Homo sapiens: one gene and its partner. The protein of the gene in region 2 purifies or fractionates together with the protein of the main gene of each other region. This does not show direct contact. Each region holds a gene or a part of one and is shown on either strand. Other genes may lie near its edges.

The links.
Region 1: the proteins of TOGARAM1 (region 2) and ARMC9 purify together in Homo sapiens (co-immunoprecipitation; 2 studies listed by IntAct). This does not show direct contact.

What each region holds. Positions count from the first base shown.
Region 1 is NC_000002.12:231,191,766-231,203,575, reverse strand, and holds the start of ARMC9 (lisH domain-containing protein ARMC9), read right to left. Parts: upstream 4,946-11,810; 5' UTR 4,878-4,945; exon of another isoform or gene 4,631-4,877; intron 1-4,630. UniProt on the Homo sapiens protein: Involved in ciliogenesis. It is required for appropriate acetylation and polyglutamylation of ciliary microtubules, and regulation of cilium length. Acts as a positive regulator of hedgehog (Hh)signaling.
Region 2 is NC_000014.9:44,956,508-44,967,672, forward strand, and holds the start of TOGARAM1 (TOG array regulator of axonemal microtubules protein 1), read left to right. Parts: upstream 1-5,682; 5' UTR 5,683-5,914; coding exon 5,915-7,960; intron 7,961-11,165. Other genes in the region: KLHL28 (kelch-like protein 28), read right to left, coding at 4,380-4,421. UniProt on the Homo sapiens protein: Involved in ciliogenesis. It is required for appropriate acetylation and polyglutamylation of ciliary microtubules, and regulation of cilium length.

The DNA of each region.
Region 1 (11,810 bases), on a different chromosome or scaffold from region 2:
GTGAGCCACCACGCCCGGCTGCTGATGTCCATTTTTTAATATGCATGTTGCCTGCTCTACAGAGAAGACTGGAGGGGAGTGGGAAGAGGGAGATGAGTACTGCTCAGGCCACGCCAGCCATGAGCATCATTTGGATAAGCAAGAGGGGCCATGAGCGCTGTGAGTCCAGATGGAAAAGGCAGAAGAGGCACAATCTGCAGACCAGTTAGTTGTGGGACATGAGGGGAAGAAGGGAAGGAAGAACCCTGGGATCTGAGCAGCTGGCCGAAGAGTATGTGATTTGCTGAGTCAACGAAAACCTGGGGAAGGACTGTTTTGAGGTCAAACCAAGAGCTCTGTTTTGGCTATAAGTCTGAGCTGCCTGTTAGACATTCCAGTGGAGGTTCCGAAATGGTCAGTGGGTATTGTAAGAACCAAAGAAAGAGGAGAGAGGAGAGAAACACGAAGGGTGGCTCGACAGTCAACAGGTTTATTTCAAACCTGGGAGGGACTTCCGACCGAGTTAGGTCAGAGCCACACTCTCCTACAGACTAAGAGTTTTTAAGGATTCAGGGTGGGAGAGTTTATCAAAGGCTTGAACTGTTTCTGTGTCTCTCTGTTGTGCTTATCTGGGAGGGAGAGTTGTGTGTCTGTTCCTATACAACTTTCTGCAGCTGCAGGCATACCCCCCAAGTCTGCTTTTAGCTTCCCTTAGTGCACCTGAAGGGAACAGAATGTCCTTATTAAGGCCCACTGTTATACTGAGGCCCATTGTAAGAGGGTGAAGTTTGGCCGTTACCCAGGAAACAAACCTGTTGACTGTCAAGTCACCCTTCGTGTTTCTCTCCTCTTTCTTTAATTCTTACAGATATATGAGCCTGGAGTTTAAGGGAGAAGCAGGAACGGCATTCAGAGGGATAGCAGAGAATATGGGTGCTGAGCAAAGACACAGATTTAGTGATTAGAAGTGAAACAGGCTGGGTGCAGTGGCTCACACCTGTAATCTTGGCACTTTGGGACACCAAGGCAGGCAGATCACTTGAGCTCATGAGTTCGAGACCAGCCTGGGCAACGTGGTGAAACCTCATCTCTACAGAAATACAAAAATTAGCTGGGTGTGGTGGTGTGTGCCTGTAATCCCAGCTACTGGGGAGGATGAGACAGGAGGATCACTTGAACCAGGAAGGTCAAGGCTGTAGTGAGCCGGGATCACGCCATGGCACTCCAGCCTAGGTGACAAAGTAAGACCCTGTCTCAAAAAAAAAAAAAAAAAAAAAGTGAAACAAGAAACAAGATCAGCTGGGCACGGTGGCTCACGCCTGTAATCCCAGCACTTTGGGAGGCCAAGGCAGGCAGATCGCCTGATGCTGGGAGTTCAAGACCAGCCTGACCAGCATGGTAAAACCCCATCTCTACTAAAAATACAAAAATTAGCCGGGTGTGGTGGCAGGCACCTGTAATCCCAGCTACTCTGGAAGCTGAGGCAGGAGAATCGCTTGAACCCAGGAAGTGGAGGTTGCAATGAGCCGAGATCGTGCCATTGCACTCCATCCTGGGCAACAGAGTGAGACTCTGTCAAAAAAAAAAAAAAAAGAAAGAAAGAAAAAAGGTCATCGGCTGCAAGTAAGAAGCATGGTGACAGTTCGAAGAGAAGGGAGAGTGGGAACGGAAGGGAGGGTGGGAACCAAAGCGACTACAGCAACATGGCAGGGTTGCTGGTATTATAGTCCATTTAAGATCTCTGCACTTGAATCTAAAATGGAATCAGTCTGCACAGTTTTGCAGCTCTTCTCCAGGCACTTTCAGCTATCTGAGTTAGGTTAACCAATGTGAGAGGTTCTTCTAGAAGAGAGAGGAAAGGGAAAACAGTACAACCACGATGGGACACTGGAACTAATCAGGTTAAGAATGGGGGAGGGGAACACACATAAGGCGGCTGCAGAGCAGTGAGGAAGCAGTGGGGTCTGAGACCTGCTGAAGGAGGCACATTCCAGTGAGTGTGAAAGATGGAAAGGAGTGGGCAGAGAGTGGGACAGATGCCTGAAGGCAAGACTTTGAAGGTGACTAGTACTAAAAAGCTCCCGACCACGGGAGTGGGCAGATGAGGAGGATGGAGGAAAGAGACGCCTGCAAGTAAGGAGGATGAAGAAACTGGAGGGGCCAGGATGTGGAAACCCCCAAAAGTGAAGTAAAAGAGATGAAGGGATAGGCAGCCAGCCGGGTGCTGGAGGCTCCAAGGGAACTGGAGAGACTTGCCCTGGGAAGTGGCTACCTCAGGGAGGGCTGGCAAGGGGTATGGCATCTGCCATGTGCTTCAAAGGAGCTGGGGTTTGTGAAGGAGTGGGTAGTGATCTGGAAGCAGTAATGAGGAGCAGGGAGGACACCTCCCCATGCACCACACCAGCCCTGCCAGATGCAAAAGGGGAGAGAAGAAAGGCAGCTGCTCCTGGGGGACACCCACCTCTCCAGCCTTTTTCTGGACCATGCCTCCAATCCATCCACCTCCCCCTACCTGATCCCTCTCCTTGCTCCCTTCCACCAATCCCACACTGGACCCTGCCAACAGCGAACTCCTGGCCATTCCCCCATGCAACAAGCTCTTCCAGGATCCTAAGCCTGTGGTTGATGTATGCTCTGCCCCCCCAGGCAAACATGACTCATGATTCTAAGCCAAGCCAGATTTAATCTCTTTTCAAGAAGTCTTCCATGAAAAACCCCTCCCTTCTTTCCCTACCAAGGCTTTTTTTTTTTTTTCTTTTTCTGAGATGGAGTTTAGCTCTGTTGCCCAGGCTGGAGTGCAGTGGCGGGATCTCGGCTCACTGCAACCTCCACCTCCTGGGTTCAAGTGATTCTCCCACCTCAGCCTCCCAAGTAGCTGGGGTTATAGGCATGCGCCATGACGCCCAGCTAATTTTGTTGTTTTGAGATGGAGTTTCACTTTTGCCGCCCAGGCTGGAGTGCAAAGGTGCAATCTGGCTCACTGCAACCTCTGCCTCCCAGGTTCAAGTGATTCTCCTGCCTCAGCCTCCCAAGTATATGGGATTACAGGCGTCCGCCACCAACGCCCAGCTAATTTTTGTATTTTTAGTAGAGACAGGGTTTCACCAGGTTGGCCAGGCTGGTCTTGAACTCCTGACCTCAAGCGATTCACCCACCCAAAGTGCAGGGATTACAGGCATGAGCCACTGCACCTGGCACTTCTTATAACCCTGTTCACAAAGACAGGGAGCTGTATTTCAACTTCATATCCCCAGAACCTAACAGAGTGTCTAGTAAGCAAGAAAGGTACTCAAGGCATATAATGAATAAATGAAGCCGGAGCTGAGGGGATGTCATTTTAAAGGCCCTGGAACGGGAAAAGTGAGTTTCTGAGAATTTGAAACCTTGAGGCCAACCTCAAGGCCTTTGCGCATATTACTCTCTCCGCCTAGAACACTCTTCCCTCTCTTCACCTGGTTAACCACTGTGCCTAATAAACATCACCTCCTTAGAGTAGACCTCCCTAAGCCGTTTAAATAGTATCTGCTGTGATCAACTGTCATTGAATGTGAGTGCTGCTGGGTATCCTATTACTCAACATTCTTAGAAATTACAGAATTGGCCAGGCACAGTGGCTCACACCTGTAATCCCAACACTTTGGGAGGCTGAGGCAGGCGGATCACCTGAGGTCAGGAGTTCGAGACCAGCCTGATCAACATGGTGGAACCCCATCTCTACTAAAAATACAAAAATTAGCCGGGCGTGGTGGCGTCTGCACCTGTAATCCCAGCTACCAGGGAGGCTGAGGCAAGAGAATCGCTTGAACCCAGGAGGTGGAGGTTGCAGTGAGCCGAGATCATGCCACTCCACTCCAGCCTGAGCGACAGGGAAAGACTCCGTCTCAAAAAAAGGAAAAGAAAAAGAAATTACAGAATTTTCTCTAAACTTTTATATCATAATAGGTATCATTTATTGAAGGTATATGGTATGCCAGGCAATGTGCAAAATGTTTTACATTTAACCTTCATAGTAAACCTGACAGGTGAATATAGTTTATATTTTCCCATTCCAGATGAGGCAATTTGAGGCCCAGGAAGTCTGACACACTCCCAACAGCCACAGTAAGTGACTAAGCGGCTGAAAAGAACCACTACACAGTATTTCCCAAAGTCTGGACCACCTAAATCAGAATCAGCTGGCACGCTTGTGCAAATGAAAATTCCTGCCTCCACCCTGGTCTTACTGAACACCGTGGCAGGCACCATGCCCAGAAATCTGCCTTTTAAACAAGCTCCCTGAGTGACTTTTACACACTCTCAAGTTTGAGAACCAGTGCTCTCCTTTATGCGGAAACTAAGAAAAACTTTTCCAGTTACATTTGGGGATTGCAGCGGCAGCTTTTGAATTCCTATATAAGAAAGATTTAGGGCCCACAAACGGGTGGGATTATGGGATTTGTATGGAAGCCGAATCTGCATAGCACGCATCCTGTTTTTCCTAAGATTAGGTGAAGTCTGGACTTCAACTGGGTGCCTCAGGAACGCGGCTAGCAGATGGAGATTATCAGGGGGATCTAAATCCCGGATAACCCGCTCGCGCCGCCACCACCAGCTGGATGGCTTGAGGGACCCCCTCCAAGTATGGCCCACTGCAGCAAAGATCAGGGACTACTTGCGGGAAGCAGCTGGGCCTGTCCTTTCTTGGGATGTCCAGGCGGCCGCCTCGGCCCTTGCCGAAGAAAGATCCCTGGACCGCAGGCGAGAAGTGGTAGCATCCGGCGGCGGCGGAGCGGGCGCGTCGGGTTTTTCCTCGGAACAAGAGGTCCGCAGAGCCTCGGCCCTCCAAACGCACCGCTGCTCCTCCCAGCACCAGGACGGCGGGCGGAGGGTGGCCCGGCTGCATCCGGGGACGCGCTTACCTGCTGCTCGGCCGCGGACACTCGCGCTATCCCAGCCCGGCCGCCACCTCCGCAGCCGTCACCCGGGCAACCGCCGCCGCCACCCCGGCGTCACGTGGGGGCGGCGCAGCCAATCGCGCGGGGCGCCGCCGACGCGGAGCAGCCTGGGAGGGAAGGTGGGCGACCCCGAAACTTCCTGGCGGCGGAAGTGAGGGTCCACAGCCCAGCAGTGGTGAAGGTTCACGCGCTGGATGACCGCGTCTTCTGTGGTCCTCTCCACCACTCCACTTTCGTTCGTTCATTCATTCGTTCATTTCCCTTTCGTTGCGCCAGTCGCTGCGCCGGCTCTCGGGATGAGCCGGAGCAGGCTCAACCCCTTGTCTCAAGGAGCTCGTGGTCGCGTAGAGAACACAAACTAGGACAGTGTGGTGTCCGTGGGGAAAGAGTCAGGCATGGTTATTCCCATCTTAAAGGAGGGACCTGGGGCCACCTTAGAACCAAAAGTGACGCCCAAGATGTGCATTAAAGCTCCGGGGACCAGGGTCCCGCCCCACTGCAGCGGTTTCCAAGGATTTCAGAGAAACTTTTTGTTTTCCATGTCAAATGTGGGCTATTAAAAATAAATCAGGAGCACACGTCTTCCCTCTCTTTGCACCTGATGCTTTTGAACTGAAGTTCATCAGCACTGAATGAGCACTTGCTAGTCACCCAACTTTGTGCTGGAGGGTGAAGAGATGGCCATGGATAGAAAATCCCTCCCCTCCAGGCGTTGAGATTCCGTGGGAGTCTCTCGTTGCCACCTCAGTGTTTCCACCTCCATGCTTCCAAGAAGGAGGAGGCTACCAGGGCCAGAGACAGGGAATGGGGCACGGAGAAGGTAGGTCAGCTCGCCTTTGAAGAAGCCCTAAGATGGGCTGTGGCCACCACTTCCCCAGTCCCCAACCCTGCCAGTGGATTGTCTTCCAAAAGAAAAAAAGCTGTATTTAGTAGAAGAGAGCCCTATCTTCTGTCCAGGTAATATGGATTGAAAATAAATCTTCAATCCATGGCCATAATATTTATCGTCAACACAACTGTATGCCGGGAGATGCCAGACAAAATATAGAACACACAGTTAAATGTAAATTTTAGATAATGTTTTAGTGTAAGTAAATCCCAAAAACTGCTTCATTTTATTGTGCATGTAGGATGTTATATTGTTCTGTATTTTTGTTTGCAAAACGTGCAGCCTATATGTGTGCCCAGCATTGTGCTAAGTGAATCATATAGATTGTTTTCTTTAGTTCTCACACCAGGCCCGGCACGGTGGCTCACACCTGTAATCCCAGCACTTGGGAGGCCAAGGCAGATGGATCACCTAAGGTCACAAGTTTCAGACCAGCCTGGCCAACATGGTGAAACCTGTCTCTACTAAAAATACAAAAATTAGCTGGGCGTATTGGCATGTGCCTGTAGTCCCAGCCACTCGGGAAGCTGAGGCAGGAGAATCCTTGAACCCGGAAGATGGAGGTTTCAGTGAGCCGAGATCACGCCACTGTACTCCAGCCTGGGCAACAGAGTGAGACTCTGTCTCAAAAAAAAAAAAGTTTTTAATTCTCACACCACATCTATGAGATGAATAATATTTTCAGCATTTTACTGATTGACAATGTTGTAATTAACCTGAGCTGTGTGCTCTTAGAAAACAGCCACAGTTAAGAAATCTCACCCACGCACCCCCAAACCTTTTGTTTTCTAAAATCCTCCACACTTTTGTGTTCTGGGAAGTAGCTTATCAGAAAGAACTACCCTTCCACATATGACTTCATCAGACCCACAGTCCTGTCTTTCTCATGCCTCCCATATGATGCACGGATGACCCCCTTGTTTACCTGTGACAAGGACAAATGCAGACCTTTTCCCTTCTGCCTGAGTCTGCCGGCAAGGCCAAGGACAGACTTTTCAGCTTCTCATTCTTTGTCTCATGGTTGATTAGCTGAGATTAGAGCTGTCTGTTTTGTCTTTGGCAAGATGAACAACATGAGGCATACGGGATTAAGAAACTCCTCAAAGTTTACACCACTGAGGAGACCAGGACTAAACCCAGGTCTCCGTGTCTCTGGACCCTGGGCTCTGAGCTGCCGTGAACACCCCACCTGCTTTGCTTTCCCTCCTGAGTGCATTTGCCTGACTGCCGGGATTATGGTCATTGTGGTGGCTATTGTCTTTGTCTGTCTACCTCCCCTCTCCCTTCTGGTAACATACCCCATCCCTCACCACAGGATGGGCAGATGGTCCAAACTGGACCAATCTTACCCCATCCCTCTGGCCTCAGTGATGGGTCCAGGATGGGCATGTGAGCCAAGCAAAGCCAATGATAGTCCTTCCCTGGGATTTTGCTGTTGAAGTGTGGTCAGGTTATTGTAAAGTGAGACTCCAGGGCAGCCTACAGCATTCACTACATGGGAAAGACTGAGAAGATGAAGCCATTACCTAGAGAAATGCAAAGAAAGTGCTGGGGACATCAAATCCCTGGTCCCAGGATCTGAGTTCCCTGGAGCTGCACTTATTCTTACAGCTCCTCCAGCATCCTTCCAATCAACTGTCTTTTAAATTTTTTATTTTTTTGAGACAGGGTCTTACTCTGTCACCCAGGCTGGAGTGCAGTGGCGCAATCTCAGCTTGCTGCAACCTCTGCCTCCTGGGCTCAAACAATCCTCCCACCTCAGCCTCCCTCATAGCTGAGATTACAGGCATGTGCCACCACGCTCAGCTAATTTTTGTACTTTTTATAGAGACGGAGTTTTGCCATGTTGCCCAGGCTGGTCTCAAACTCCTGAGCTCAAGCCATCTGCCTGCCTCAGCCTCCCAAAGTGCTGGGATTATACATATTACTGCACCCGACTTCAACCATCTTTTTAATTTCAACTAGTTTGGACCTGCATGGTGGCTCATGCCTGTAATCCCAGCACTTTGGGAGGCCAAGGTGGGAGAATTGCTTGAGGCCAGGAGTTTCAGACCAGCCTACACAACATAGCAACATCCATCTGTACAAAAAAAAAAAATCCGTCTGTACAAAAAAAAAATTATTTTAATTAATAAACTGGTTCAAGTTGGGTTTCTGTCACTTGCAACCAAAAGAGACCAGACTAACATAGACACAATTTCTATATGTCTGTTTGAGATAGGAAAAACCAAACTGACTGCTTTTACTCTTCTCACACTCAACACATTTTTTTTTTTTTGAGACAGAGTCTAACTCTGTTGCCCAGGCTAGAGTGAAGTGGCACAGTCATAGCTTGCTGCAGCCTCAGCTTCCAGGCTCAAGTGATCCTCCTGCCTCAGCCTCCCAAGTAGCTGCTGGGACCACAAGCACGCACCACTATGCTCGGCTTTTTCTTTTTTTTTTTTTCCTTAGAGGTGGGGTCCCACTTTGTTGCCCAGGCTGGTCTCGAACGCCTAGGCTCAAGCGATCCTCCCGCTTTGGCCTCCCAAAGTGCTGGGATTATAGGTGTGAGCCACCATGCCCGTCCTCAACACAATGCTTCTGACAGCAGATGTGTGGAGGTTTTTCCTTACACACTAAGCAACTATCCAGCAGACACTAACTGGTTGTCCTACAATTCAATTCTGATACTAGCTAATGACTGGAGTTAGAATCAGATCCCATAGGTCAAAGGCTCAGTCCCACAAGACTGTCCCCCACCTCAGATGCCAGTCAAAAGTAGCAGTTGTCATCTGTACTTCTAACCAAATGGCTATAAATGAGGGTTCCATTAATTTACTAGGATGGCTCATAGAAGGAAACACTCACATGTACTGGCTCATTATAAAGAATGTGACAAAGGTTACAGATAAACAGCCAGATGAGATGGTACCCAGGGCAAAGGATGGGGGCGCAGACCTTCCATGCCCACTCCAGGTACCTCCATGGTTCAGCAGTCTAGAAGCTCTTCAAACGCTGTGGTTGAGGGATTTTTACAGAGGCTTCGTAATGCAGGCACAATCGATTGTTATTATTATTATTATTATTTTTGAGACGGAGTTTCACTCTTTGTTGCCCAGGCTGGAGTGCAATGGTGCAATCTCAGCTCACTGCAACCTCCGCCTCCGGGGTTCAAACGATTCTCCTGCCTCAGCCTCCCAAGTAGCTGGGATTACAGGCATGCGCCACCACGCCCAGCTGATTTTGTATTTTTAGTAGAGACAGGGTTTCTCCATGTTGGTCAGGCTGGTCTCGAACTTCCGATCTCAGGTGATCTGCCTGCCTTGGCCTCCCAAAGTGCTGGGATTACAGGCGTGAGCCACTGCGCCTGGTCGGCACAATCAATTATCAACTCAATCTCTGGCTTTTCTCCCCATCCCAGAAGATGGGGATGGGGCTGAAAGTTCCAAGCTTCTAACCTTGGCTTGGTTTTTCTGGTGACCAGCCCACCAAGAGTCATCTCATTAGAATACTAGATGTTCCCATCACCCATGAAATTCCAAGGGATTAGGACCCTTTATCAGGAGCAAGGGACAAAGACCAAATAGAACAAAAAGATCCACCTAGTGCCCCATCACTCAGGAAATGACAAGAATTTTAGGAGCTCTGTGCCAGGAGCCAGGGGCAGAGATCAATTATATATTTTTCCTTTCTTTTTCTTTCTTTCTTTTTTTTTTTTTTTTTGTTAGACAGAGTTTTGCTGTTGTCACCCAGGCTGGAGTGCAGTGGTGCAATCTCAGCTCACTGCAACCTCTGCTTCTTGGGTTCAAATGATTCTCCTGCCTCAGCCTCCCGAGTAGCTGTGATTACAGGTGCGTGCCCCCCACGCCCACCTAGTTTTTGTATTTTTAGTAGAGACAGGGTTTCACCATGTTGGCCAGGCTGGTCTCGAACTCCTGACCTCAGGTGATCTGCCCGCCTCAGCCTCTCAAAGTGCTAGGATTACAGGTGTGAGCCACCGTACCCGGCCTAATTATATATTTTTCTTATTTCACAATGTCATATCAACTAAAAGTGGCCTCAGCAATGGGGGTGGTGGTTCATTTTCTTATAATAAATACAGAAGTAGCTGGCTTCTTACCAGCAGCTCAAGTTGTCAAGGATCTGGGTTGGTTCTGAATTGTATCATCCCCGTGACTAGGTGTGATATGGAACAAATAGATACGGTTTGATACAGTTTAAAAATAATTAAACTACTATAATTCCTTAGTTATAATTTAAGACTTTCTTTGAATCCTGAACACTTGTGTAAGCATAATGCCAGTATTTAGGTGGAAAATCTCTGACTCAATCTCAGTCTGTTTAACTTATTCGATGTGTTCTCGTGGGAGTACAAAGGATACTTTTGTCACAAGAGGCAAAACTGCTTAGTTCTGAAGCTTCCTCCAGGCAGTCTCTAGGTTGGCTCTGCTGTGTATATTCCATGAGTTCATAGCAATACACTGAACCAGCTGCCTCAGCTTCCCCACTCTTAGGACCTGCCAAAGCATCCCATTTGCCCCAAATGTTCTTGTTTGACCACTCCAGTTTTCCCAAAATGGGATACATACTGCCAATGGGCCCAAGATGACTTTCTAAATTGTTTAATTATGAAAATTTCAAACATATGCAAAACCAGAGGATGGTTTAGTGAATCGCCATACACCCATCTCTCAGATTCTAGAATTATAATGACACTGGTGCTGGGAAAAACTTAACCTCAAATTAAATCCTTGGAATATGCTGAACACTTTAGCCAATATCTTCAGCCTTGCATAGGACATCGAAGGGACTGGTGGAGCTCTAGATTCTGGTGGGGGACACAGCTGATTCTTCTGCAGCCTAGAGCCCTCTGTGGGCCCTAGCCCTGAGTACTTTAGGGGCAGGAGGGTCACACTCCTCTGTGGCCTGCTACACACAGTTCATGAATGAAGTCATCTTTGCAGGCAAAGCAGGCATCTTTCTGGCTGCTGTCTTTGTTGGAAGGCAAAGAGCTGAGACCACAAGCAAAGAGGGAGAGTTGGTAAATGTTACTTTCCTGAGTTGCATAAAAGGGTGAAGCCACCTAAATTAAGCACACTGAGCCTGACCCACCCAGGCAGACCAGCGGCCAGCTAGACTAAACGCAGTTGCCTCATCCGGGAGCTCCTGCAGGGGGAGTTCAGACCAAGAGCATGTTTCTGGGCAGGCCCAGCGCCTGGATCTAATCAGTGGGATGGAGGAGGAACATACTGAAATGCCCGGCGTAAATCAAGAGATGAATTACAAGATGCTGCTTAAGCGAACATTTCCTTCCAGGAAAGTTGGATCTTGGTCGCTGCTCAAAACTCATGATGTGTGGGGTATGCAGGTCCATTCATCTTCCCAGCCCGGAGTCCATGTAGGGGTGGAGGAACAATTGTCTCCCAAAGGCTGCTTCTCCTCCCACTCCCCTTCCCAAAGCTGTTTATATCTGGAAGCTGAAGATTTCTTGGAAGGAGAGCACACCGGGTGGAAATATTCATCTCCCAAAAGAGCTCTCGGTGGGCGGTAAAGCAGGCGACCCCTGAAAGTCACTGAGCAGCCACTGTGGCCTCTAGTGTGTGTCCTTCCTCCCCTGTCCCAAGGATGTGAGCCGCATCACTGCCCCAATCGTTCTGTGGCCTGGAGGAGGTTGGCAGAAAAACTCAGGCCTCAAAATGAACATCTGGAAGAGCAAGCCTGGATTCCCAGGTGGTTTCCAAGCAGGCACACTTGGAGAGATTGCTAGGGCTTTCATCAGTGGTGTTCATAGACATACTCACTTAAGACTTTTCATGACGACTGTCACTTTCTTTTTTATTTTTTATTTTTTTTGAGATGGAGTCTGGCTCTGTCGCCCAGGCTAGAGTGCAGTGGCGCGATCTCGGCTCACTGCAAGCTCTGCCTCCCGGGTTCACGCCATTCTCCTGCCTCAGCCTCCCGAGTAGCTGGGACTACAGGCACACGCTGCCGTGCCGGCTAATTTTTTGTGTTTTTTCGTAGAGACGGGG
Region 2 (11,165 bases):
TATTAATTTACATAAAATATAGAAAATAGAAAAATCATGTTAAACAATACCAGAAAGATGCAATTAGCAAAAACATACCGACTGTGAAAAATCTTGTAAAATAAACTAAATTCTTCAACAAATAAACTGCAAGAAATAAAGAGAATGAATCTATAAATTTAAAAGACGTATCAATCAAATACAACCTGTGAACCATAGACTTGTGTGTGCACCCACATATTTAGAAAACAGTTGGAAATTTACACACTGACTGGATTATTAATATATTAATTAATCACTGCTATTTTTTGTTGCTAAATAGTGGTATTGTGGTTGTGTTTTTAAGAGCTTTTTTCTTTTACAGATATATGCTGAAATTGGTGTGCAATGGTGCAATTATAGCTCACTGTAACCTTGAATTCCTGGGCTCAAGGGATTCTCCCTCCTCAGCCTCCCAAGTAGCTAGAACTACAGGCGCATGCTACCATGCCTGGCTAATATTTTTTATTTTTATTTTTTGTAGAGATGGGATCTCACTATTTGTCCAGGCTGGTCTTGAACTTTTGGCCTCAAGCAATCCTCCTGCCTTGGCCTCCCAAAGAGCTGCGATTACAGGTGTGAGCCCCCATGACCAGCTGTATTGAAATATTTGTAGATGAAATAATATGTTGTTAGGATTTGCTGCAAAATAATAGGGGATGAGGTTGTGGAAGGGGATATAGATGGTGTCATGAGTTGATAACTATTGAAGATGCGTGATAGGTAAATAGATGTTCATCATATTGTTCTGCTTTTACATGTTTTTGAAATTTTGCACAGTAAGAGACTTTTTTCTTAAAAAACAGAAAATATAAGGCACAAAATTTTGAATAAGACAGTTTTAGAATCCTAAGTTCAGGGAGTTTAAATGAATTAGCAAAATCACATAATTAGTAAAAAACATTACTGGGACTAGAATGTTTTCTTAATCTTGGAACAATGCTCTCTACACATTACATACAAAAAATTAACTGCCAAACAATGTTGAGCTGCTTAAAATATTTACTGAATCAATTTATAATTGTTATCACTTCTCATAAAATGAAATAATTCTATGAAAGAGCATCTAGAATACCTTTGACTGTCATAATGTACCAGTTAACAGTCTAAGCTTTTAACATGTATTAATTCCTTTCATCCTCAGAGCAACAATATAATAGGCACTGTTATTATTACCACCATTTTACAGATAAAGAAATGTGAGGCACAGAGAAATTAAGTCCAAGGCAAGATTTAAACCTTGGCACTCTGTCTATGTAATTCTTAAATATTCTATTACACTGCCTCATTTATTAAATAAGCTCAGAATTTCTTAATCTTATTAAAATCTTAACTCAAACAAGAAATTAAAAATGTGCAGAATGGAAATCCAGAGGATAGATCATTCATATAAAATCTTTATAAAATAAATACACATTAGATACAAAAATACACAGGGCTTTAAAATGAAATAAAGAAGGATCCATGGAACAATCATTGCCTTCCAGTATTTGCCTAAAAGCAGATTTGGTATATCAGGTTCCTCCATATCTCTGCCATAGTTTTTGTTCTTTTTTTTTTTTTTTAATGATAAAACAAACAATAGTATTCTGAATCTTGGTAACTGCATTAGTCAATATCGAATAAAAAGTATCCATTTGAAATTAAAATTAAAATAAAACTTTCCATAGTCTACAGTAACTTAACTTTAGGCTCTGAAACCAAGTTAATAAAGGTCAAGTTGCGAGTTTTGTACCTATCTACTTAATTGACACCTAAGCCACAAAACAGTGGTGCTGAAATCAGTTGGGAGGCACTTATCTGCCACTATATAAATATAGATCACACCCAGAGTAAATAAATGGTGAACAGAAATCAAGATTACTCTTAAAAAAAAAATTCAAACCGACAGTTTTCTTTAAAAAGAGAAAATAAGAAATGATTTATCAAATTAGGAGAATATTCTATCACATCTGCTCTTTTCTTAAATTTCTTTCCTACAGTTCAACTTTCCTCATAGGATAATTCAACTAATAATGGTATATAATTCTATCAGTGAGCCTATGGAATAAGTTAGGATATTTTCCTTTTATCTGAGATTTGACTTTTATTGACAAACAAAAGAAAAGTAAAATTAGAAGCCTGTCAAGAGCTCTTACTGGATGTGGTAATGACTTTGAACTTGCTTTCTTCTGTGTTATTTCTGAATCCATGTTATGACAGGCGTCTAAGTTACATAATTAATCCCTGTCCACTGAAAAACTGCAACAGATGTGAAATTCTGTTAACTTATACATAGTAATTAATATGTAATACAAGTTGGATTTTTGTTTAAAATTATAGTTTTGACTGAAGACAGAAATACATAATGGCTTTGGAAGATAAACCTAAGTAGATGAAAATATATCACTCATATACATCAAGAAAACTGATTCAATCCTGTATAAAATAAGCTCATAATTTCTTAACTTATTAAAGTGTTACCTCAAACAAGAAACTAAAAATATTTTGAATAGAAATCCAAAAAGGATAGATTAAAATATATATAATCTTCAACCAAGGATTGAAAGAAAAAATAATAAATTAAAAAATATATAATCAAATGATATATAATAAATGAATAATAATGGAAAAAATCTAATTTTATCCTAAAGTTTCAACAGTGACCTCCACCAAAACCTTCTCCAAGCTCTAAGCAAATGTGAGTTTTACTTTCTTCCTCTGTCCAATTACTCTTTTGTGGAAACACCCATAAAATGTTCCATAGTCCAAATGTAGAAGATGTAACCTCAAAAAATTCTTGTGAGGATTAAATGAGTTAATATTTACTAAGTACCTAGCATGGTGCATGGCACATAGCAAATACTCAAAACATGGTATTATTATGATTGTTTGTTAATATTAATAGCAACTTTCATTTGCATAGCATTTCTTCACAATAACTTCTCAAACTACACAAAATTCTTAATAGTTTACAGAATTCACACTGACGTTCAATATTCCTGGATGTCTGTAAAATTTGAGTAAGAACACAGAAAAATCATAGTGATTCGCCCAGGGAACTAATGTGTTATCTCTGATTCTGGAAATAAAGTAAGTTTTTAGGGCAATTGTGTTTACCCTTAAGTTCAGCTAAAAAAATTAACATATGTAGCACACACATTCCTATAATTCACTAATTTAACTACATTCTTGAAATTATTGAAATTTTAAACTTGTTTTAGCTGAATTTGCAATTTTCAATGTATCCTTAACCACTTCCTTTTAACTTTCTGAGGTGTACTATTAATAAAACACCTAATAGTGTATTCTACTATCTAAAAATTGATTACAAATTTGTACTCTCTCTATATATGATTAAATACAAAAGGCTTTTTAAGTCAATATACGAGAAATTCCTAGATTTCCAAAGATTAAAAAAAATCTGCTTCGTAATAAAAAGAATACACACTCAATGAATGAGATTTATGTTCCACAAAATAACTCTAAAAGATAATCAGTAAGACGTGATGCTGATGAAGTCCCATTTCCTAAATATCCACTATGGAGACTAATGCCTCTTCTAAGTCTTCAATCAAAGAGACAAAATGTAACAGATAAAAAATAAATTGCAATCTGTAATGTATAGTGATCCACAGGGATCTAAAAAAACAAGAATCAAAAGGAAGACTCATCTTGCTTTGTTCCCAGGAAAAGGGCATGATAACTGCTTAAGTATCCACGTCTCTCATTTAAGACTTTCGAAGTTCCTTTTCTGTGATTCCATGATTACCACACAACCTCTAGTTATTAACTTGGCTTCCCAAGTTCTTGGATACAAGAAAGAGTGCACTGGATTTTCAACTTGAAAATTCTGATCCAACATAAACTGGCACTGTAATGTGTACATCATTGTCTAGGTTAGTTTGAACTGGGTTCCTCAAGTCTGGGCAATACATGACTAGAAGTCTACACATTTGAGCTTCTTAGGTTGGAACTGTGAGAACCAGACACTTTCTCATTGACAACTGCTACAATCATTTCTTGTTTTTCACCTCCCTGTCTTTAACCTGTCCCTAAAATGAAACATGCTAGCTAAACCTAATTTAGGCAGATTCATTTAAACACGAAAATGGCTCATTAAAACCAAAGTAACAGCCTAGAATTTAAACCAAAACATAGGATGTATATTTACACAGCCTCATTTACATTATAGTCTATTCCCCACCCCCACCCCCCCAAAAACAAAACAAAACAAAACTGATATTCAAATCGTACTTTAAGGCAAAAATCCAGAAATTATTTTTGCACTTGCATCAGCTGGGAGCATTATTTATAAAGCTGTTTGGCATATGTGACTCATTTATTCCAAGACTTTAAAAAGTATTTAAGAGAAATCCCACCTGGTACAGAGCAGGGTAGGAATACTTGCATTTGAAGTGCATAAATTTGGGTCTTCAAATGATAACTTAGACTTTTCGCACGAGTCATTCAAAAGTAATAGTATTATTCCTTCAAAAAAAAAAAATATCTCTTCCACACTCCAAAGCATTCAGGCTCACACTAGACACTCCAGCTCTTCCACTGTGTCCGTTTAAGTATCACTTATGAGGAGAAAATGCACACAAAATTCTCAGTTCGCCTAAAATAAATAAATGTCTACTATCATTCCTAAATCCACAAGGCAGAATTCTCTTAGAACCATGATGCCAAGAACTTCCACCGCAAGTGAAATTGTCTTCGCAATCTCTGTCTCTAGGAGACTGAAAGGCTGCAGAGACGCTTGAGGATCCTGCAGGGAGGCTAGGGCGGCAGACGGAGGGGGCGGAGGTTAGGGGAGAGTCCCACAGAGGAACTGCATTAGAAGGAAAGATTTTGATAACGTCTAAGGGAGAGGCGGTTAGCTACAGGGGGAAAAAAACAGACCTATTTCCATATTATGTACGTTGTAAAGAAAACGCAAAGTGATGAGGGTAAGGAAACGTTGCCAAAAACAAACAAACAAAAACAAAAAAAAATTAACCCTCTGCGGCCGGAGGGTTAAGAGAAGTCGACAAAAGGAGAAGGGGGAGGCGAATAAAGGCCCCAAAGACCAGGAATTGAAAAAAAATACCCGATTTGTGAGCTTGGCCGTGGTCCAGATCTTCTGTCCTGATAAGCAGATGGCAAGAGGAAAGGATCGCAGTTACTCAGGGTGGTAGAGAGTAACGCGTTTACAAGGGTGACGAGCCCTGCACAAGAAGATGTCGCCTCTCTTTCCACCTGCTCCGCTCAGTCCTTTGCCTCTTACTCTAGCACCAGTGGCATTCGGGCAAAACACTGCCAAAGCCTGCACCGCTGGAGGACAGCAAAAGGAAAATACCTGAGTCTCAGTAATCACACGGGCAGCGACAGGAGGAGGAACCGCGGACAACTGGAGCCTGGGCTGGATCCTCACTAGCTCCGGTCAAACCCTAACTCTTACGGGTGGGGCGGGCAACTTCCGCCCAGAGCAAGGAAAGCGTCACATCCGTCAAATGGCTTCACCCCTCCTCCCTTCTCCGCTGTAGCTGCGTTTACAACGTTCTGACTTCCTCTTCCAGGAGACTTTGGCCTAGTCTCAACACCTGACGTGGACTACATAACCCAGCATTCATCACGGCAAGTGGATTTCCGGGTCAAGAGGTCCGCGCTGGGTACATCACCATGGAAGCAATCGGTTTGGTCACGTGGTGCCCTTGGTTACGCCCGGTGGCAGCTGTGGGGTCTAGGGCTCAGACGGGGGCCATTTTGCCAGAGGCTGCCTCCCGGAGTTGGGGGCGGCCTGGCGGCAGGCTGAAGCTGTTCTTTTGCCTCTTCTGCAGCTTGGGGCTTGGAGAGGATCTGGAAGTCTGGGCTCCATCGAGCCCTTTGGAGACGGCAATGGTTTCTTCCAACCACCACCACCTGACAACCCTGCATGGCGGCTGCCCCCTCCGCGCTGCTTCTGCTGCCGCCCTTTCCAGTCCTCTCTACCTATCGGCTCCAGAGCCGCAGTCGTCCTTCCGCCCCAGAGACCGATGATAGTCGAGTTGGGGGCATTATGAGAGGAGAGAAAAACTACTACTTCCGTGGAGCTGCGGGGGACCACGGTTCCTGCCCCACTACAACTTCGCCTCTGGCCTCGGCCCTCTTGATGCCCTCGGAGGCAGTCTCAAGCAGCTGGTCTGAGTCTGGAGGCGGTTTGTCAGGGGGAGATGAAGAGGACACTCGGCTCCTTCAACTCCTCCGCACTGCCCGGGATCCTTCTGAGGCCTTCCAGGCTTTGCAAGCTGCTTTGCCGCGGCGGGGCGGTCGACTTGGCTTCCCCCGACGCAAGGAAGCTTTGTATCGGGCACTGGGCCGAGTGCTTGTGGAAGGAGGTAGTGATGAGAAGCGGCTCTGCTTGCAACTTCTCTCGGACGTTCTCCGGGGTCAGGGGGAGGCAGGCCAGCTTGAAGAGGCCTTTAGCTTAGCACTTTTGCCTCAACTAGTTGTCTCGTTACGGGAAGAGAATCCAGCCCTGCGGAAAGATGCGCTGCAGATCCTTCATATATGTCTGAAACGTAGTCCTGGAGAGGTGCTGAGAACGCTTATACAACAAGGACTGGAAAGTACCGATGCCCGACTTAGAGCTTCCACAGCACTACTGCTTCCCATCTTGCTTACTACTGAGGACTTGTTGCTTGGTCTGGATCTCACCGAGGTGATAATATCCCTAGCCCGAAAGCTTGGTGATCAGGAGACAGAAGAAGAATCTGAGACAGCTTTCTCCGCACTTCAACAAATTGGGGAGCGACTTGGCCAAGACAGGTTTCAATCTTACATTTCTCGTCTGCCCTCTGCCCTGAGGAGACACTACAATCGCCGCCTGGAGTCCCAGTTTGGAAGTCAGGTTCCTTATTATTTGGAACTTGAAGCCTCTGGATTTCCTGAAGATCCCCTTCCCTGTGCAGTGACTCTTTCCAACAGCAATCTTAAATTTGGGATTATTCCTCAGGAGCTGCATTCACGATTATTGGATCAGGAAGACTATAAGAACCGGACCCAGGCCGTCGAAGAACTAAAGCAGGTGCTGGGAAAATTTAACCCTAGTTCTACTCCTCATTCTAGTCTTGTTGGCTTCATTAGTTTGCTATATAATTTGTTAGACGATTCTAACTTCAAAGTGGTGCATGGCACACTTGAAGTCCTGCATTTACTGGTTATTCGCCTTGGAGAGCAGGTACAGCAGTTCTTGGGACCAGTTATAGCAGCTTCTGTCAAAGTGCTGGCGGACAACAAGTTGGTGATCAAACAAGAATACATGAAAATCTTCCTCAAGCTAATGAAGGAAGTAGGACCTCAGCAGGTGCTTTGTTTACTCCTGGAACATCTCAAACATAAGCATTCCAGAGTGAGAGAGGAGGTGGTGAACATTTGCATCTGCTCCCTGCTGACCTATCCTAGTGAGGATTTTGACTTGCCCAAACTGTCCTTTGATCTTGCCCCAGCTCTTGTAGATAGCAAACGCAGGGTACGCCAAGCAGCTTTAGAAGCTTTTGCCGTATTGGCATCATCAATGGGCTCAGGTAAAACCAGCATCCTTTTTAAAGCTGTGGATACAGTTGAACTGCAAGATAATGGAGATGGAGTGATGAATGCTGTGCAGGCCAGATTGGCTAGGAAAACCTTACCAAGGCTCACAGAGCAGGGATTTGTGGAATATGCAGTACTGATGCCATCTTCTGCCGGGGGTAGGTCAAACCATTTGGCACATGGAGCAGATACGGACTGGCTTTTGGCTGGTAACAGAACTCAGAGTGCACACTGTCACTGTGGTGACCACGTGAGGGATAGCATGCACATTTATGGATCTTACAGCCCAACTATCTGTACCCGAAGGGTATTAAGTGCAGGAAAAGGAAAAAATAAATTACCATGGGAAAATGAGCAACCTGGAATCATGGGAGAAAACCAGACCTCCACTTCCAAGGATATAGAGCAGGTATGCTTCTCTAATTTTCTTGAGTCGAAAGTGTGAAGAATTTAAATGAAAATATGCCCGTGATGACTTAAGGGTCAGCCTGCTTGAGGGAAACATGTTATGCTTTGTTTTAAATTGATTTTAAATCCATCTGAATGTTGGTACTCATTATAATGGTACAGATCACAAAGGACCATTTAATAGGCTTCCTGCTTGATAGATTTAATTAAATTTGAGACACATGTGATATAGACAATACCAAGATTCAGTTTTAGTTACTGTAGCATGTCAGTTTATCTCATTCATACAACAAACATTGAATACCTAGTACGTGCCAGATAAAGAGCTAAATTCTGGGAATGAAGATGAGGCCAGTTTCACACAGTATAGGAAAAAGGTCAGACCTGGGAATTAGCAGTTAACAAATTCGTTAAGTGCTAAAGTAGAAATATAAAGAGTCCTGCAGGAATACTGAAGACAGAAAAACTAATTCCACTAGAAAAGTAAAAAAAAAAAAAAAAAAAAAAGGAAAAAGAAAAAGCCTCCACAGAAGATACAACATTTGAACTGAGATTTTCCCCCCAAAGCTTTTATTTAAAAAATTCCAAATCTATAGGTAAGAGTACAATGAATACCCATATACTTCATCTATATTTACCAGTTGTAACATCTTGACATATTTCCTCCATATTTGCTGAACCATTTGAAAGTAAATTGTGGATATCTTGAGATTTCACTCCTAAATATCTCGGCATATATCTCCTAAGAATGACATTCTTCTTTTATAACCATAAATCATTATTGCACCTAAGACTATCAGTAGTAATTCAATAATATGTAACAGACAGCCTGTATTTAAATTTCCCAAATTGTCTCCAAAAGTGTTTTATATTTCTTGTTTTACTTTTATCATCCAGGATCTAGTCAGGGTTCATGTGGTTAATGTCCCTTGTAATTTTATCTAGAATAATATCCTACTTGTTTGTTTCTTTGTTTTTTCATGGCATTGGCCTTTTATAAAAAGAGTTTGGGGTAGTTTTGTAGAATGTCCCAAGTTTTACATTTATATGTTTACTTGATTAGATTCAAAATAAATATTTTTAGGAAAATATTACATAGGAGATACATATATATTAAGTAGAAGATAAGTAGTGTGAACTTCACAGTACATTACATTATGAGGCAAATGATATCAGGCTGTCCCATCACTGGTGATGCTTAATTTTACTGTTTGGATAAGGTGGTAATAGCCAGATCTCTCCATTGTAAAGGTATATTTTCCTCTTTAGAATTAGCATATAATCAGTACAGTGATACTTTGAGACCCTAAGAATACCCCGACAACTTTTCACCCACTGTGTTTAGCATCCACCAATGGTCTTTACCTGTATCATTTATTACACTGGGGGCTTACAAATAGTAATTTTTTTTTTTTTTTTTTTTTTTGAGATGGAGTCTCGCCCTGTTGCCCAGGCTGGAGCGCAATGGCGCAATCTCAGCTCACTGCAACCTCTGTCTCCCAGGGTCAAACGATTCTCCCACCTCAGTGTCCTGAGTAGCTGAGATTACAGGCTCCCACCACCACGCCCAGCTAATTTTTGTATTTTTAGTAGAGACAGGGTTTCACCATGTTGGCCAGGCCTGTCTCAAACTCCTGACCCACCCGCCTCGGCATCCCAAAGTGCTGGGATTACAGGCGTGAGCCACCATACCCAGCCCAAATTGTAATTTTTAAATTACAAAGGCCAGGCAGGGTGGCTCACACCTGTAATGCCAGCACTTTGGGAGGCTGAGGCAGGCAGATAACCTGAGGTCAGGAGTTGGAGACCAGCCTGGCCAACATGGTGAAACCCCCGTCTCTACTAAAAATACAAAAATTAGCTGGGTGTGGTGGCACACACCTGTAATCTCAGCTACTCGGGAGGCTGAGGCAAAAGAATCACTTGAACCCAGGAAGCAGAGGTTGCAGTGAGCTGAGATCACACCACTGTACCCCAGCCTAGGCAACAGAGCAAGACTGCATCTCAAAAATAATAATAATACTAAAATAAATTAATTACAAAAAGAGTAATTTTAAAAAATTGTGACATTTCTTCTCTGTTTACTACCTGCAATTCTTTTTTTCTTGTATGTGTAATAATTACATATTATTTTTTGTTACTAAATTTTTTTTAACTTTTTCATGATAAAATTGTCCCAAATTTAACTAGTGGCTGGCTCCTGTGTCCTTTTAACATGACTGTTCTTTAGTCTTTGATTATTTCCTTAACATAACATTTGGACGATTGCTTGAGGCCAGGAGTTCGAGACCAGCCTGGGCAACATAGTGAGATCCCCATCTCTACAAAAATAAAAAAACTTAGCCAGGCATGGTGGTGCAGGCCTGTAGTCCCAGCTACTTCGGAGGCTGAAGTGGGAGGATTGCTTGAGCCCAGGAGTTCCAGACTGCAGCAGTGAGCCATGATTGTGCCACTGCACTCCAGCCTGCTCAAGAGTGAGACCCAGACTCAAAAACAAAATAAAACAAAACAAGAGTAACATGATGCCTAGCCTTACTTTGGTTTTTTTTTTCTTGCTTCAGACCTGGAATCAGCCATTTTTTTCAGAAGTCCTAGTACTGCCTTTTTATTGGGCAGTGGTATTTGAAAACAAAAGTCTGAGTATAGATTTGCTCATTGCTATTTCTTGCCATTGTGGTTTGACCCTTTCAGTGGACAGAACCAAGGAGTACTTGTTTTTTGTTTGTTTGTTTTTTAATGCATTTATATTAATACCTCCAATTCAAAACTAGTACTGCAGGGTTCTTTCTCATCTTCCTTTATTCCATATTTGAATCTCCCTTCGTTCACAATAAAATCCCTGCTACCCAACATCAGTAATATTTATTCATATGCTGTATCCTACAGTAACCCCCCTCCCCCCACAAAATTGCTAGACCAGCAACAGCAACCAACTACCTACTAAGTAAAGTTTAAGATTTCGTTACAGTTCTTTTTGTATTTAGAATTATTCCACAGTCAGAATTTTGTGGTCAAACTTTTCTTAAATTAAGTCTTTTATCTATGTAATTATTATTCAAACAGCATGATGAAAGATGAATAGGAGCTTGCTAAGTGTGGATAGGTCCCAGTGAATTTCAGACTAAAGGAATAGCGTGTTTAGAGACACTGATTATGTGAAAGAACTTAGCAAATTAATAAGAGAATGGGGAATTTTTGCACAGCAA